2 separate regions of the Homo sapiens genome follow, and region 2 is reported to be linked to region 1. Evidence: microRNA targets listed by miRTarBase, many of them from high-throughput screens and not tested one by one. Region 1 holds a microRNA gene; the other region holds the end of a gene's coding sequence.
What was found. The annotated mature microRNA hsa-miR-935 reads CCAGUUACCGCUUCCGCUACCGC and lies in region 1 at 1,993-2,015, shown strand. An mRNA with a match to its seed (bases 2 to 7 or 8) in the 3' UTR can be bound and repressed. Matches are read on the target gene's strand: a 7mer-m8 pairs with bases 2 to 8, a 7mer-A1 pairs with bases 2 to 7 and ends in A, and an 8mer does both.

Region 2: the mRNA of NOP2 is a reported target of hsa-miR-935. The part of its 3' UTR that is shown has no 7-base or 8-base seed match.

Annotation. Positions count from the first base shown.
Region 1 is chr19:53,980,370-53,988,060 of GRCh38, forward strand. MIR935 (microRNA 935) reads left to right here and starts at 1,938; the gene lies at 1,938-2,028. It overlaps CACNG8 (calcium voltage-gated channel auxiliary subunit gamma 8), which reads left to right. Exons shown (of 4, transcript NM_031895.6): 4 at 1,711-7,691. The coding sequence ends at 2,480. RefSeq lists an enhancer at 1-146.
Region 2 is chr12:6,551,232-6,558,596 of GRCh38, forward strand. NOP2 (NOP2 nucleolar protein) reads right to left here. Exons shown (of 16, transcript NM_001258308.2): 16 at 5,640-6,411. The coding sequence ends at 5,762. It overlaps IFFO1 (intermediate filament family orphan 1), which reads right to left and starts at 4,811. Exons shown (of 10, transcript NM_001193457.2): 1 at 4,026-4,811. The coding sequence starts at 4,798. RefSeq lists enhancers at 1-365, 638-1,155, 2,787-3,287, 3,288-3,788 and silencers at 4,249-4,428, 4,539-4,778, 4,829-4,988.

The sequences.
Region 1 (7,691 bases):
TGAGGATAGAGAGGCGGGGCTGGGTCTTGGAGGGCGGGCCCAGGAGAGGTAGAAAGTGATCTGAGCGCCGATGAGGAGCCTGCTTTAAGGGGCGGGCCTTTGGAGACTTTGGTGGATCCAAGAGGGGGCTGGTCCTGGGAAACCGTCCAGGGCCGGGAAGTGGAAACTAAAGGGGCTGGGTAAGGGAGACTGAATCGGCCCTTGCCCGTGGCCATTTGGAGAAGGAGAGGCTAGAAAAGACGGGGCGATGCCTGGAAAAGCCAAAGGGGGAGGGGTTATGTCCTTAAGGGCACAGAGAATCAACCTGGCTGATTGAAGCAAGAGGCCGACCAAAGCCAGTCAGTACCTGGGATTGGCCGTCTCAAGAGCTAGGGCCTAGACGAGCAGAGAGCTAGGACTGGAACACTTAAGAGGCACGCAATTAAGGGGTAAGGCCCCCTTTCTACCCCGTATGAGTAGCATTGGGAAATTCCAGGGGCAGAGCTTTTTTGGAGGAGTAGAATACAGAGAAGAGGGAGGGCTTTGCATATTTGAAGAGCAGGGTGTGCTTTGGGGATGGGTCTAGATCTGCAAGGGGTGGGGCTTGGAGGATCTGAAAGGCCGGAGTAGCTGGACCTGAGACCGGCAAGGACCCGAGACCGGCAAGGACCCTGGCCAAGATCCGCACGGGGCGGGGTTTGGTAAGCTGGAGGTGGGGCCTAGAGTAGAAGGCGGGGCCTGCTTTATTAAAGGCAAATTTTTGACCAGTAGGGGAGGGCCTAGAATGGATACTCCGGCAGGAATTATATGAAGAGAGATTAGATAAGTGAAAGGCAGGGCCTGATCACAGCAGGATGACATCATTAACAGAGTTCAAAGGAGCAGAGGGATGAGGCTTGGGAAAAACCCAGGTTTATAACGTTAAGGGTGGAGGTAGACTAACTAGGGCAGGGCCTGGAAACTCATCTCATCAAAGGTGGGTTTTAGACCAGTCAGGGCAGGGCCTGGACTCGCTGGGAGTGGGGCTTAGGCCACCTAGGGGTGGGGCCTGGACCGCTTGGGGTGGAGTTACCACCAGCCAGGGTGGGGTTTAGACCAGCAGAGTTGGGACCTTAGCTAGAGGAGTGGGGTTTATGCCATGTGGGGGCAGCCCAGACCATCTGGGGGTGGGTCCTAGACCACCTGGGGCAGAGTTTAGACCAGCCAGGGCTGGGTTAGACCGGCAGAGGTGGGCCGTGGGCTATCTGGGGGCAGGACCTGGACCATCCAGGGCCGTGTCTGGACCATTCAGGGCAGGGCCTGGACCACCTGGGGGTGGAATTTAGACCATCTGAGGGGGTGCTTGAGCCTGCCTGGGCCAGGACCACGCATGATGCAGTCTGGACCATTGGCGGCCCTACACCACCTGGGGGATGGAGTTTCGACCAGCCGGGGTTGGATTAGACCAGCAGAGGTGAGGCCTGGGCCAGCTAAGAGTGGGCCGGAGCCCTCTGGGTTGGAGCTTAGACCAGCAGGGAAGCGCCTAGAGCATCGGGCGGGGAGTTGTGTTCACTTCTGGCAGGACTTGGGTCAGCCAGATCCAGGACGGGGGTCTAGACCACTCGGGGTGGGGCCTAGACCGCCTGGGGGTGGCGCCTGGGCCCGCTGGCGCAGGCGGGCAGGGGTCGGGGCCGGGGGCGGGGGCGGGGCCGGGGGTGGCCTCGAGGCTCCCGTCTGACCGTCCCCGCCCAGGCCTGAGCAACATCATCGGCGTGATCGTGTACATCTCCGCCAACGCGGGCGAGCCGGGCCCGAAGCGGGACGAGGAGAAGAAAAACCACTACTCGTACGGCTGGTCCTTCTACTTCGGCGGGCTGTCGTTCATCCTGGCCGAGGTGATAGGCGTGCTGGCCGTCAACATCTACATCGAGCGCAGCCGCGAGGCGCACTGCCAGTCTCGCTCGGACCTGCTCAAGGCCGGCGGGGGCGCGGGCGGCAGTGGCGGGAGCGGCCCCTCGGCCATCCTCCGTCTGCCCAGTTACCGCTTCCGCTACCGCCGCCGCTCCCGCTCTAGCTCCCGCTCCAGCGAGCCGTCGCCGTCGCGGGACGCGTCTCCCGGCGGCCCCGGGGGCCCGGGCTTTGCCTCCACGGACATCTCCATGTACACGCTCAGCCGCGACCCCTCCAAGGGCAGCGTGGCCGCGGGGCTGGCGGGGGCCGGCGGCGGCGGCGGCGGCGCCGTGGGGGCGTTCGGCGGCGCGGCCGGGGGCGCCGGGGGCGGCGGCGGAGGCGGCGGCGGGGCGGGTGCCGAGCGGGACCGCGGGGGGGCGTCCGGCTTCCTCACGCTGCACAACGCCTTCCCCAAGGAGGCGGGCGGCGGCGTCACGGTCACGGTCACCGGGCCGCCCGCCCCGCCCGCGCCCGCGCCACCCGCGCCCTCTGCGCCCGCCCCCGGGACCCTGGCCAAGGAGGCCGCCGCCTCCAACACCAACACGCTCAACAGGAAAACCACGCCTGTGTAGGGGCGCGGCGGGGGAGCCGAGGGGCGTGTCCGGGGCGCGTGCGCGGGCGCGCGTGCATCGAGGCTGCCGGGGTCGGGGGCGCCCCCGCTTTCCCCCGTGAGCGCGCTGGAGACTGCTGGGCCCGCCCCACGCCCACCCTCCCCGCCCCCCTCCCCCTCCGAAGCAGGGACCCCGAGGGAGGGGGCAGGGGAGGGAGGGGGCCGCTGTGAGGGAGCGTCGTGTTTTATTTTTTTGGGGGATCTATGGGGAGGGGGGAGGGCCATGGTGTTTTTTGCAGTTTCGAGATGTTTTCTTTTTCATGTTTTGCTGTGTGCATGGGGGGCGGGGCGGGGGGAGGGGAGGGAGGGACTCCCAGCCCAGCCCAACTCCTGGAGAGGGGCCCATAATACACGAATACATAGTTACACCCACAAACTATATATATGCCCTATATAAAGAGACACAGCGAAGGGATGCAGAAAGGCAGAAAGAAGGGTTGGACGCGGGCATTCATTCATTTTTTTCATTCATTATTCCACAAGGGCTTATTAAGCACCTACTGTGTACCAGGCACTGGTACATAAGAAGGCATTGGAGCAGGGGACACGAACGAGGCACAGAAAGGGCCTTCTCATTCATTCATTCATTACCGGCAATTTATTTGTGCGCCTTAAAAAGCTAGGCATTGTGCTCCGTGCTCAGCGTGCAGGAGGCAGGAAAACAGCCAGGGGCCCCGACGTCTCATAGAGTAAACATCTTGTGCATGAGACAGGCATTAATCGATCATGTACATACACAATAAATTACAGTTAGGCTATAGGAGAAACGAGATGCTATGAAATGCTCCATCAGGGGAGCCTAACCCAGTTGTGAGGAAGAGATTTCAGTGGACAGTGAAAGGATGAGAAGAAGCCAGCAGGGCGGAGCTGGGGCAGGAGTGTGGCAGGCAGAGCAGCACGTGCAAAGGCCCCGGGGCAGGAAGGAGCTTGCAGCGAGGGCTGAAGGGTAGTGAGGCAGGTGAGCGGGGATCAAGGTGAGGCCGGAGACACAGACAGGGCCAGATTGTGCAGGGGCTCGTAGGTCAGGAGTTCAGATTTTATTCTAGGAGTGGTGAGGGCCGTGGAACGGGTTTAAGCAGGACGCTAACGTGAATGGTGTACAAAGGGAAGACAGGAACTCGGAGGCAAGAGTAGGAGGCAGAGATGTGCTGAAATACAGCATCAAACATGGGCACGGGCCCTTGGAGCTCACACTCTTGTGGGAGGAAGCACGTAATTACACAGATGCTGAAGCATAGTCATGGTGTCTGGTGTGCAGGAGAAAGCCGTGGGGCTTAGAGACTCATGTGTCTGTCACTCGTTCATTCAGCCACTCACCCATTGCCATTTTTGGCCATCTGCTAAGGTACCAGGAAGTGTGTTAGGATCCAGATCCCCAGGGGTGAAACAGACTCTAGCCCTGCTCTCAAGCAGTTTATTGTCATCAAACACCGCCATCCAGGCAGGGCAATCGGTGCTGGAACCCGGACCACCGTGGGTACCGTGGCACACGGTGGACAGAGTGACCAACTGCCAGGAGTGAGCAGCACTTGGGGTAGGCTTCCTGGAGAATATGATGCCCATTCTGGGTCTTGAAGAAATGAGTGGGCATCTTCTGGTTGATGAAAGGCATGAGAAAGGCTTGTGGGGCCAAAGAACAACTTGGGTGAAAACGGGAGGAAGTGAACGAGCATGATGTATTGGGGTCAGTGCTAACAGTTCTGGGATGCTGATGTACAAGGTGGGGCTGGGAGATGAGGCCGGGAAAGTAGCCACAAGCTAGAGTGTAAAGGTACCAGGGTGGCCGGGCGCGGTGGCTCATGCCTGTAATCCCAGCGCTTTGGGAGGCTGAGGCTGGAGTATCACTTGAGCCCAGGAGTTTGAGACCAGCCTGGATAACATGGCGAAACCCTGTCTCTACAAAACATTAAAAAAAATTAGCCGGGCGTGGTGGAGCACACCTGTGGACACAGCTACTCAGGAGGCTGAGGGAGGAGGACCATTTGACTCCAAGAGTTCGAGGCTGCAGTGAGCTAGGATCGCGGCACTACACTCCAGCCTGAGCAACAGACTGAGATCCTGTCTCAGAAAAAAAGAGAAAAAGGTGCCTGAGTTCCAGGCAGAGGGACTGAGGCTCTTCTAAGGATGGTGAGAGAGGATGACAGCTGCGCGGGGGCAAGGGCTGTGCGGTGATTGGAGGGGATGGGTTTGAAGTTCACTGAGAAGGCAGAGGGGACAGCGCCCAGTAGGCTTCCCTTCCATATTTGCTCAGCAAGTGTTTCCTGAGGCCTCCCCCGAAGCCTTGTGCTGGGCGGTGCTGGGAGTGGAGAGGTGATTTTGATCTTGCCCTGCTCTCAAGGGGCTCCCAGTCTGGCGGGAAAACAGGCACAGACGCAGCTTGAGGAGGACGTGGCAGCGGTGGTGCCATGCTGCCAGGGGCTCTGCGTGCCCTTCTCTTGACGGAAGGGTACAGATCAGAGCTGGGTGTTCAGAATTTCTCTCCGAGGCCTGTGTGGAAGGACCAGGAAGAGAGAGACTGAAGGTCCCTAGGAAGAATTCTGCCAAGGCGGTTTCAGGAAGAGATGCTGGGAAATGTAGGAAAAGGAATACAAATCAGTGAGACGGAGAAGCGCTGAGTGAGAGAGACGGATACGTGGAGAGAAGAGGGATGCCGGAGCGGGTGTTAAAAGAGACAAATCTGGCCGGGTGCTGTGGCTCCTAATCCCAGCACTTTGGGAGACTGAGGCAGGCAGATTGAGCTCAGGAGTTCCAGACCAGCCAACATATTGAAATCTTGTCTCTACCAAAAATACAAAAATTAGCCGGGTGTGGTGGTGCACGCCTGTAGTCCCGGCTACTCAGGAGGCTGAGGTGAAAGGATCTCGCTTGGGCCTGGGAGGGTGAGGCTGCAGTGACCCGTGATGGCACCACTGCGCTCCAGCCTGGGCGAAAGAGCGAGACTCTGTCTCAAAAAAAAAAAAAAAATTGAGAGACAGCAAATATTTGCTGGAAGAGGGAGAGGGAACTGGTTAGGGGAGAATGGATTCTAGAGTCTGAAGGCCAAACAGAACGAGAGAGAGAGAGAGAGAGAGAGAAAGAATGAGGTTGAGGGTAGGCAGGAGGAAGAGCAAGATGGGGAGGGAGGGGGAGAGCAGGAGAGACCAAACTAGTAGAGTCACAGACAGAGAAAAAGTCAAAGACAGGAAGGTGATACAGAGGAGAGAGAAGAGGAAGAGGAGAGACTGACAGGTGCACAAATCAGAGAAGTCCCAGAGATAGCAGAAACACACACAGAGACAGAGATAGAGAGGGAGAGGTAAGCCGGAGACAGACTCAGAGATTCGCACAAAAAGCAACGTGGAGACTCAGAAGCAAGCGCAGCGTCAAGGAATGCTCCATTTCTGGTGTGTTGTTTTCCCAGTATTCAAGAAATATTTATTGAGTGCCAACCTGTTCTAGACCCAATCTCGGCCAGGGGATGTGGTGGCAAATAGACGGACAAGGGCCTGCTCTCCTGAAACACACTGGAGAGATAAACAATAAATAATATCATTTCAGTAACCAAAAAGTGCTTTAAAAATTAAGCTGAAGGCCGGGCGCAGTGGCTCATGCCTGTAATCCCAGCACTTTGGGAGGCCGAGGCTGGTGGATCACTTGAGGTCAGGAGTTCGAGACCAGCCTGGTCAACATGGTGAAACTTCATCTCTACCAATAAATAAATAAAGTAGCTGGGTGTGCTGGTGTGCCTGTAGTCCCAGCTACTTGGGAGGCTGAGAAAGAAGGATCACTTGAACCCAGGAGGCAGAGGTTGCAGTGAGCTGAGATCGCGCCACTGCACTCCAGCCTGGGCGACAGTGAGTGGTAACAGAATGACAGAGCAAGGATGACTTTAGATGAGGTCCTTGGAGTAGACCTTGTGGCAGAGGTCACAGAGATGTGGATTGTGAGTAGGAAAGAGAGGTGAGAAAGTCTGGGGGCCAGGCATTCCACCCACCAGAGGCAGCCCCAAAGCCCAGAAAAGTAGCAGGTCTTCGAGGAGGCCTGTGCGGTGAGCAGATCCACCATAGGACAGAGGCACAGGGTAGGGGCTGATCAGTTAGGGCCTTGGATCCTTGGGAAGAAATCTGAATTTTATTCTAGATCTGATGGGAAGTGCTTGGAGGGTTTTGAGCACAGGCATGCCATGATCATATTTTTATTTTCTTATTTATATTTATTTTGAAAAAGAGTCTTGCTCTGTCTCAGGCTGGAGTCCAGTGGGCTGATCTCGGCTCACTGCCAACCTCCGCCTCCCAAGTTCAAGTGATTCTCCTGCCTCAGCCTCCTGAGTAGCTGGGATTACAGGCATGTGCCACCACGCCTGGCTAATTTTTTTGTATTTTTAGTAAAGACGGGATTTCACCGTGTTGGCCAGGCCAATCTGAAATTCCTGGCTTCAAATGATCCACCTGCCTCGGCCTCCCAAAATGCTGGGATTACAGGAGTGAGCCACTGCGCCCGGCCTCATATTTTTATTTAAACAAGAACAGCAGAATTACATTGCTGTGCTGAGCATACGTAGACTTCAGGAGTCAAAGGGGAAGGAAGGAGGTAGCGGGCTGTTGCCTTCCTCTGGTTGCTGGAGGCCTGGACCAAGGTGGAGTTAGTGGGATGGAGGAAGTGGAAGAAGGCATGGGATTTTGGAGGCTAGAGCCTGCATTGGTGGTGAACTGGATGTCATAGAGGAGGGAAGGAAAAGGAACCAGGAAGAGAAGAACTCTCTGAATTGGGCACGCACATCTCTGATGGGCACCGATGAGGATTGTTACCAGGAACGAGGAGACTGGGATCAGGAAAGTGGCTTTGGGAGGGAGGAACCAAGGCTTCTCTTTTGGATGTGTCAAGATAGATCTGCCTTCGAGAAATCCGAGTTGTGGTATCAAATAGCCAGTTGGATATGTGAGACTGGAGTTTGGGGGAAAGAGAGGCCGTGGCTCAAAAACGTAAGTTTTGGAAACGTCAACATAAAGCCACAGGATTGGGTGACGTGGCCTAGCAGGGGGGTGGGGACAGAGAAGCGACCCTGGCCAGAGCCTTGGGGACATCTACATCTGGGGGAGAAGGGGATGTAGCAAAACGAGCTTAGGAGTGATCTCGAGGTAGGCTGAAACCAGGAGGGTTACAGAGGGCAAATGCACCTTTGTGTTTCAAGAAG
Region 2 (7,365 bases), not on the chromosome of region 1:
CCTCCGGGCTGTGCACCAGGAGCTCTGTTTGGGCAAGTGCTGAGGCTCCGGTCCTCCGTGATGCCCATCCCTGCTCAGGCCCCAGCTCAGCCAGCTGTCCGGCTGGCCTCATTGCCCACCTCCTGCCCACACCAGACCACCAGGTCCACCCGGCCCAGTCTCCCACCTTCAGTCGCACAGATCCGGGCTCCCGCCTCCTGCCCGCACCAGAACAGAGCTCGTCGAGCCCGCTGCCCTGCCTCTTGTGGTATCATTTAACCCTGTAAAAGCATCTGCAGGACACATAGTGTATCAACAGAGTGGGTCAAGAGCCTGGTAGGAGACACTCAAAGTCCTTCCCCACTAGCTCCAGAAACTACCCACCCAGAGCCTCCTCTAAGGGAGTCACAGAGAGGTGACCAGACTGGCTCAGAGGCCGGAAGTCCCACAGCAGCATGACAGCAGTGGACACACGAGCCTGGGGTTACTAGCACTCAAACCCAGAGGGAAAGAGAAAGTAGAGTATGTAAAGGGGCCCGGTGAGTACGGCAAATGAGAACTAGACACAGCCTGTTCCAGGGCCCAGAATTCAGAGATTAAGACTGCAAGTGGGCCGGACGACACCCTGGGCCACAGGGCAGGGTCCTAGGTAGGGCATGCTTCCCAGAGCCAGCTTTGTCATGTCTCATCAGCCATGGCAGGCAGTGCATATTCTATTCCATCACAGAGATGGAAGCCAGGGCAACGTGCTGCTTAGGACCCGCCCGGCATTCCAGGGCCCTGCAGTCTAGCTGGCGTAGCAGCACATCTCAAATCCTGTTCCTGTGAGCTCATCACTTCTGTCAACCCGAGAAGGGAGGGGAACTGCACCAAGAGAGAAACTTCAACACAAGAAAGGTGGTTAGGAAGGGGCCAAGAAGACAGCAAGAAAATTAAAATCTGAGTGGGCAGCTTCTGAAGCCTTGGGTGAAGCCCTTTCTTCCCCTTCCCTCCATCTTCCTTCCTGTGTCAGCCTCTGGGTCCCATCTCCTCATTCACAGCCGCACTGCAGTATTCCTAATAATAACTCCTCCACATCACCTCGACTGCCCCTCCCTGCTGGGCAGAGCAGGAGGAGGCAGCCAGCCCAGCCACCACCCTGCTGGCTCCCCACACAGCCCAGCTCCCAGCCTTCCTGGCTCCCAGCCCCCTTCCCTGTGTGTCCCGTAGGTGCTTCTCCCCTCCTCCCTGGCATTCTCATGCATACAGTCAGGCCACTAAGGGAACCAGTCGCATCAGATTATGTTTTCTTAGCTAAGACCCTTATCTTTTCTGGGTCTTGGTTTCTTCATCTATGATGTGAAGGCATGAACTGTGGTGCCCTCATGCGCCGGGAGCCCACGAGTCCCTGGAGGGAGACAGTAAGCCTGTCAAGGGCACGCTAACCCTGGACAAGATGTGTGAAAGAGGGCAGGAGGGGCTATCTGACAGTGAGCTCAACAGAGCCTGGAAGAAACTTAAGTAAGGCAGTTATAGCTAAAGGTTAAGCCTAAGGAAATCTTACAGGGTAAAAAAAATCTACAAATGAATCATCTGGAAGCCCACTACAGTTCTATTTGTTCTTTGGCCAGACTTCACACAGACAGGTTCATTTTCACCTCCATTTCCATCTGGTCTCACTTATAAGGTTCCCTTAACATGGGCAGAATTTGAGAGCGATATCCATGTGTTCTGCATGGACCAAATATCTCTCTTCCAAAAAACTGTATCCCTGGGTTGAAGAGAGAAAGCAGGGACCATTCCTATGTTGGGAAAATGGGGGCTCAAAAAAAGGTCACGCACAAGGCAGGGGAGCTGAAAATAGAACGCAGGAGGCCTTTAGCTACCTCCCAGTGTAGCGCTCAAGCCATCCCAGGCCTTCCAGGCAGAAGACAGGAGTTACAGTGTTGCTATAAAGAGACCAGAATGAGGGCAGGGAATCTAGGGAGGAAGAAGAGTCACTGCCAGTATCACGCACCATCCGAATCCAGCTAAGGCTCTCTACACAGCAGCGTGCTGCAGAGCGATGAGCTAATCAGTCCCCAAGGAATAACTCCTTCCTGTCCTGGACAGCTGGACCAAGGACAAACGCTCCTTCAGTTTAAAAAAAAAATGCTCCTGAGAACAGCAGTTGTTCCTGTGGTTATGGATGTATTCCAGAACTGTGCCTGTGCCACTGCTGAGCGCGTAGTTAACTCCTGCAGGGGCAGAGCAGGCTGGTTCTGGGTGGCAGAACGATGATTTCAGGACAACTGAAACTCCCAAGGACACATAACATGGACCACAACTAAGGAAGCCAGCACGAGGACAGGACTCAAGCTCAGAAAGCCTGCTGATCAGGTCAGGAGTTTGAGACTGGCCTGGACAACGCAAAAAGAAAAAAAAAAAATAGCCAGGCATGGACATGGTAGTGCACACCTGTAGTCCCAGCTACTCAAGAGGCTGAGGCAGGATGATTGCTTGAGCCCAGGAGGATGAGGCTGCAGTGAGCTGTGATGACGCTACTGCACTCCAGCCCGGATGACAGAGCAAGTCCCTGTCTCAATATTTTAAGTCAAGGGTCTGTAGTCATGTGTTCAACGCCACTTCTTGCCATCACTTTGCAATTATTGAAATGGGCATACTGAGCTCAGAAAGCAAATCTGATGCTTTCACGGGAGACAGAGCCACATTTGTGTTCTGGGTGGGATCACTAGTGCAGGAGAACACTACATCTTCTTCTGAAGGCAAAATGCTTGTAGGTTTTGCCTCTTTACTTTGCATTTACTTCTAAAATTGCACTTGTTCACCTACCAGTGTTTACGAAATCCTGTATTTGGGATGCTTTTTCTATAATAAAATATTATCATTTATGGGAAAAAAAAAAAAAGAAAGCCTGCTGATCTGTGATCTGGTAAACTCCAGCAGGGTGGAGATCCCTGAAGGTCGCCCCTAGACCCAGCGGTCATTTCCTAGAACATTCGGCCAATCCTCACCCAGTGCTGAATCTCCGCCACACTGGGCTGCATAGGTAGTTCCCAGGCCCGCCCACAAGGGGTCATAATAGCTGAGATGAGAGGGGAGGCCGCCAAACCAAAGCCTGTCAGTCACCCGCTCCCTCCTCAAGGCTTGGGTTGGAGTCTGCAAGACACTACCTCTGCTCTCACTCCTGTCCTATCGGCTTGGTTATCAGCCATCTAAGGAATCCACTTGGTATACAGCCAGCACTCCTGGCATCACATCCCTTTCCCTTGCCCCTTGGGGCCGGGCTCCTCTCAGACAGCCAAATCTTCATCCACAGAATGCACCGGGCCCGCCCCGCGGCCTCGCGGTCCTAGGGAGGGCCCATATCCCAGCTTCTCCCTGCTCAGTCCCCTGCTGGCTCTCCACTCTCCCTCCCCACTGGCGCTTTATACTGCCAAGATTCCCCTGTCAGCCCTGCTCTCCACCCTCACCCTAGTGAATTCCCTTCACTCTTTCTTTTCCCAGTTTGTTGACCTACTCAAGCAATGGCTTGAGGTCCCGGAGCTTTTCCTATGAAACCACAGCAGGTACCTGGTTTCCATCAATATTCTTTGGGAAACCTTGGGGTGTGAAAGAATCACTCGTTGCAAGGTACAGCCCCTCCCTCACCAGCCCCTTCCAGTTTCACTCAATTTAGTCTCCCAAATTTACGCTATATCCTTGCCTCCTACTTTTGAAGTTTATATCCCTAACCTGCCCCAGGGCTGAGACCGGTAGGGCAGAGCCCCAGTCCCTTTCACACCGCACAAAACCCGCAGTTAAGCCTGGATGGCAGAGACAAGCCGGAAAAGTAGGAATCCCCCCGTGTTCCGCTCCCAGCGTCCTTCTTCCTGTCACGAGCAGGGCTTCTGCATTCTCTGCGGATTCTAGTCTCCCTGCATCCAATTGCTTCCAAGCTCCTCATTACACAGCACAAACTTTACTCTCATTCTTTTCACCCCTGATTCTTCGGAACCCACACCAACTCGCGGCCCGTTGTGAGTGGTATGACACAGAGAGACCTGTCCCCCTTTCCCAATCCCTACCTCCGCTTGTACTCGTCCCGCTCCCGCTTCACTTTGGCCAGCACGTTGTAGAGAGCGCGGATCTCGGGCGTGATGGTGTCGATCTGGACGCCCACCCCATCCGGGTGCACCCACGACAAGCCAGGCCCTTGCACCAGAGTGGGCTCCAGTCCCGGCCCGAGCCGGCGGGCGTGCGAGAACGACCAGATGGTGCCGGGCATGAAGCGGGCCGACGAGGAATAGGTGGTGGAGGTGGAGGTGGAGGACGACGAGAGGCTGGCCGCGGAGGGCGCGAGGGGGCCGGCCGGGGAGCGCGCGGGCGAGCCCAGCACGCGCGCCGAAGGGCTGCAGACAGCGGCCGGCCGGGCGCCCAGCTGCAGCCCCAGGGGCCGGATGGGGCTGACGAAGCCGGTCTGCACTGCCTGGTCGCGACGACCCAGGCCCCGCCGGCCCTGCTTACCCTCCTCCAGCGCTTGCTGCAGTTGCTTCTCCAACAGCCGGTTCCGGCGCTCCAGCTCATGCACCTTGGCCAGGAAGCAGCGGAACCGGAGGTTCAGGGTCTTGAGCACGTTGATGTTGGAGCCCAGGTCATTGCGGAGGGCCATGGCGGCAGGCGGGGCCGGGCCCGGCCCGGGCGGCGAGTAGGCAGCAGGGCCGGCCGGCGAGAGAGGCGCCGGGGGCAAGTCTCCTCCCCCGGCGAAGTGGTCGCCTCCCAGTGAGTCCCCCAGTGGCCCGGCCAGGCCCTGCTGCTCCTGCTGCAGGAGGAAGAGGTTGGGGCCGAATAACGGATTCATGGCTGCGCCTTCTGCTGGGAGATGCAGACCGGTGCAGGAGCAGGGATGGAAGGCGAGCCAGAAGAGCCAATGCGGCGCCGGCGGGACAGAGCCGACCAATCAGGCGGCTCGGCAGCGGGGCAGAGGTCAGGGGGCGGGCCGAGGGGAAGCCAATGACAGGCTCCAATTGGAGGCCGGACCCTGGACCTTTCCGGGTCTGAGGCCGAGCCCTGTGATGAGGGGAGCCACCGCCTGGACTCCAGCCGGGGTGGCGTAAAGCCCAGGACCTCCAGTACCCCATGGGTTCTGGTGGCAAGCCCATCTCCCCTACACGACTTTTTTTTTTTTTGAGACCGAGTCTCACTGTCGCCCGGGCTGGAGTGCAGTGGCGCGATCTTGGCTCACTGCAACCTCAGCCTCCCAGGTTCAAGCGATTCTCCTGCTTCAGTCTCCCGAGTAGCTGGGATTACAGGCACCCGCCACCACACCCGGCTGATTTTTTGTATTTTTAGTAGAGACGAGGTTTCGCCATGTTAGCCAGGCTGGTCTCGAACACCTGACCTCAGGTGATCCACCCGCCTTGGCCTCCCAGAAAGTGCTGGGATTACAGGCATGAGCTAGTGTGCCCCGCCTTCCCCTACACTTCTATTGCCCTCCTCTCCCCGGAGTTCAATCACCCCTAGCTCTGACTCCAGGGCTTTCCCTTCCTGGGAAAACCCAAGGATGCAGGAGCCTAAAACTGACCTTATTTCTCAGTAGCACCCAACCATTCCCTCTCCTCAGAAGATCCCAGTCCCACCTCCCATCTTTACCCTTAAAGCGGCAAAGGCAGCACCCAGTTCCCTCAAAAATACTCAGTGGCCAGAGGTTTTAAAATGTGTATTAAATTTCATGGGTATGCACAGTAGAGAAGGCATCCTCACAGAGGCAAGAGTTCCAACCTGGTGACAATGGCAGTGAGCCACCCGTCTAGTTTTCAACCATCTAAGATAGCAGCAGCTGGCTGTTGCCCCTGGACTGAGATTTCTTCCTCTTTGCTGGTGGGGGGCGGCTGGAACGGATGGGAGACACAGTGGGAGGCTGAGGCCCCTTGGGGGTATCATTCTGTTTCTGGAAGGCAGCTTTCTCAAAAGGCTGCTCTGGCAACTGCTGCTTCTCAACCCCCTTGGCCCTTCCAAGGGGCTGATGATGGTCCTTAGGTTTCAGGGTGGCCTGAGTCTTGGATGGGGATAACACAGCCGGTGTTTGTGTGTCTGTGCCCTTGGGAGGGGCATTCTGCCTGAGGAAAGCAACTTTCTTGGAGGACTGTAATTTAGGTGATCGTTGCTTTAGCTTCCCAGTCACCTTTGGCTCCCTGATCCCTTCGGCTTTTCCAGCTGGCTGACTGCTATCCTGGAAGCTGGAGGAAGCTTGGGTCTTTGTGACAGAAGGTACAGTGGACAATTCTGAGTCTGCCCCTTTGGAGATGCCATTCAGCTTCTGGAAGGAGGCCTTCTTGGGATGTTGCTGTTTCTGCAGCTGCTGCTTTGTCTTTGCAGCCCCCTTGGCTTTCTTGGCTGGCTGGCTGCTGTTCTCAGACTTGGGGATGACCTGAGGCAAGTCTACATTTGTAGGTGTGGCTGTTTCAGAATTTCCTGGGGTTAAAATTAAACAGATGGTGTCAGAAAATGGGCCTTATCACCATATTTTAATATTCTCATATTAAAATATGAGAATTGCCATTTCCTGGGCAGGAGCTCCACACAATTAGGTCAGTGCCTAAGAGCAGATTACCTAAATTCCCATTACTTAATATAACTTGGCCTTTACTCAAGTCCTAGTTGAACCTTGTATTAAAAGATCACTGCCTATAGGCCAGGCGTGGTGGCTCACACCTGTAATTCCAGCACTTTGGGAGGCCAAGGCAAGTGGATTGCTTGAGGCCAGGAGTTCAAGACCAGCCTAGCCCACATGGTGAAACCATCTCTACTAAAAATACAAAAATTAGCCAGGGATGGTGGTACACACCTGTAATCCTAGCTACTTGGGAGTCTGAGGCACAAGAATCGCTTGAACCTGGAAGGTGGAGGTTGCAATGAGCTGAGATTGCACCACTGCAGTCCAGCCTGAGCGACAAAGCAAGACACCGTCTCAAAAAAAAAAAAAAAAAAAAAAAAATCACTGCCTATCCTTGGGCCAAAAGGTTTCTACAGGAAGCTGCGCCCTCTTGAGGACAGGAAGTAACAAGATGCTGTAAGGAAGAGGTGATTCTCAGGGTTTTGGGGTTTTTTTTTTCTTTTTTTGAGATGGAATCTCACTCTGTCACCCAGGCTGGAGTGCAGTGGTGTGATCTCGGCTCACTGCAACCTCTGCCTCCTGGGTTCAAGCAATTCTCCTGCCTCAGCCTCCGGACAATCACAACCGTGCGCCACCATGTCCGGCTAATTTTTGTATTTTTAGTAGAGATGAGGTTTCACCATGTTGACCAGCTGGTCTTGAACTCCTGACCTCAGGTGATCCACCTGCCTCAGCCACCCAAAGTGCTGGGGTTACAGGCGCGAGCCACCACGCCCGGCCTCGCAGGGTCTTCTAAATGAATTTGAAGCACT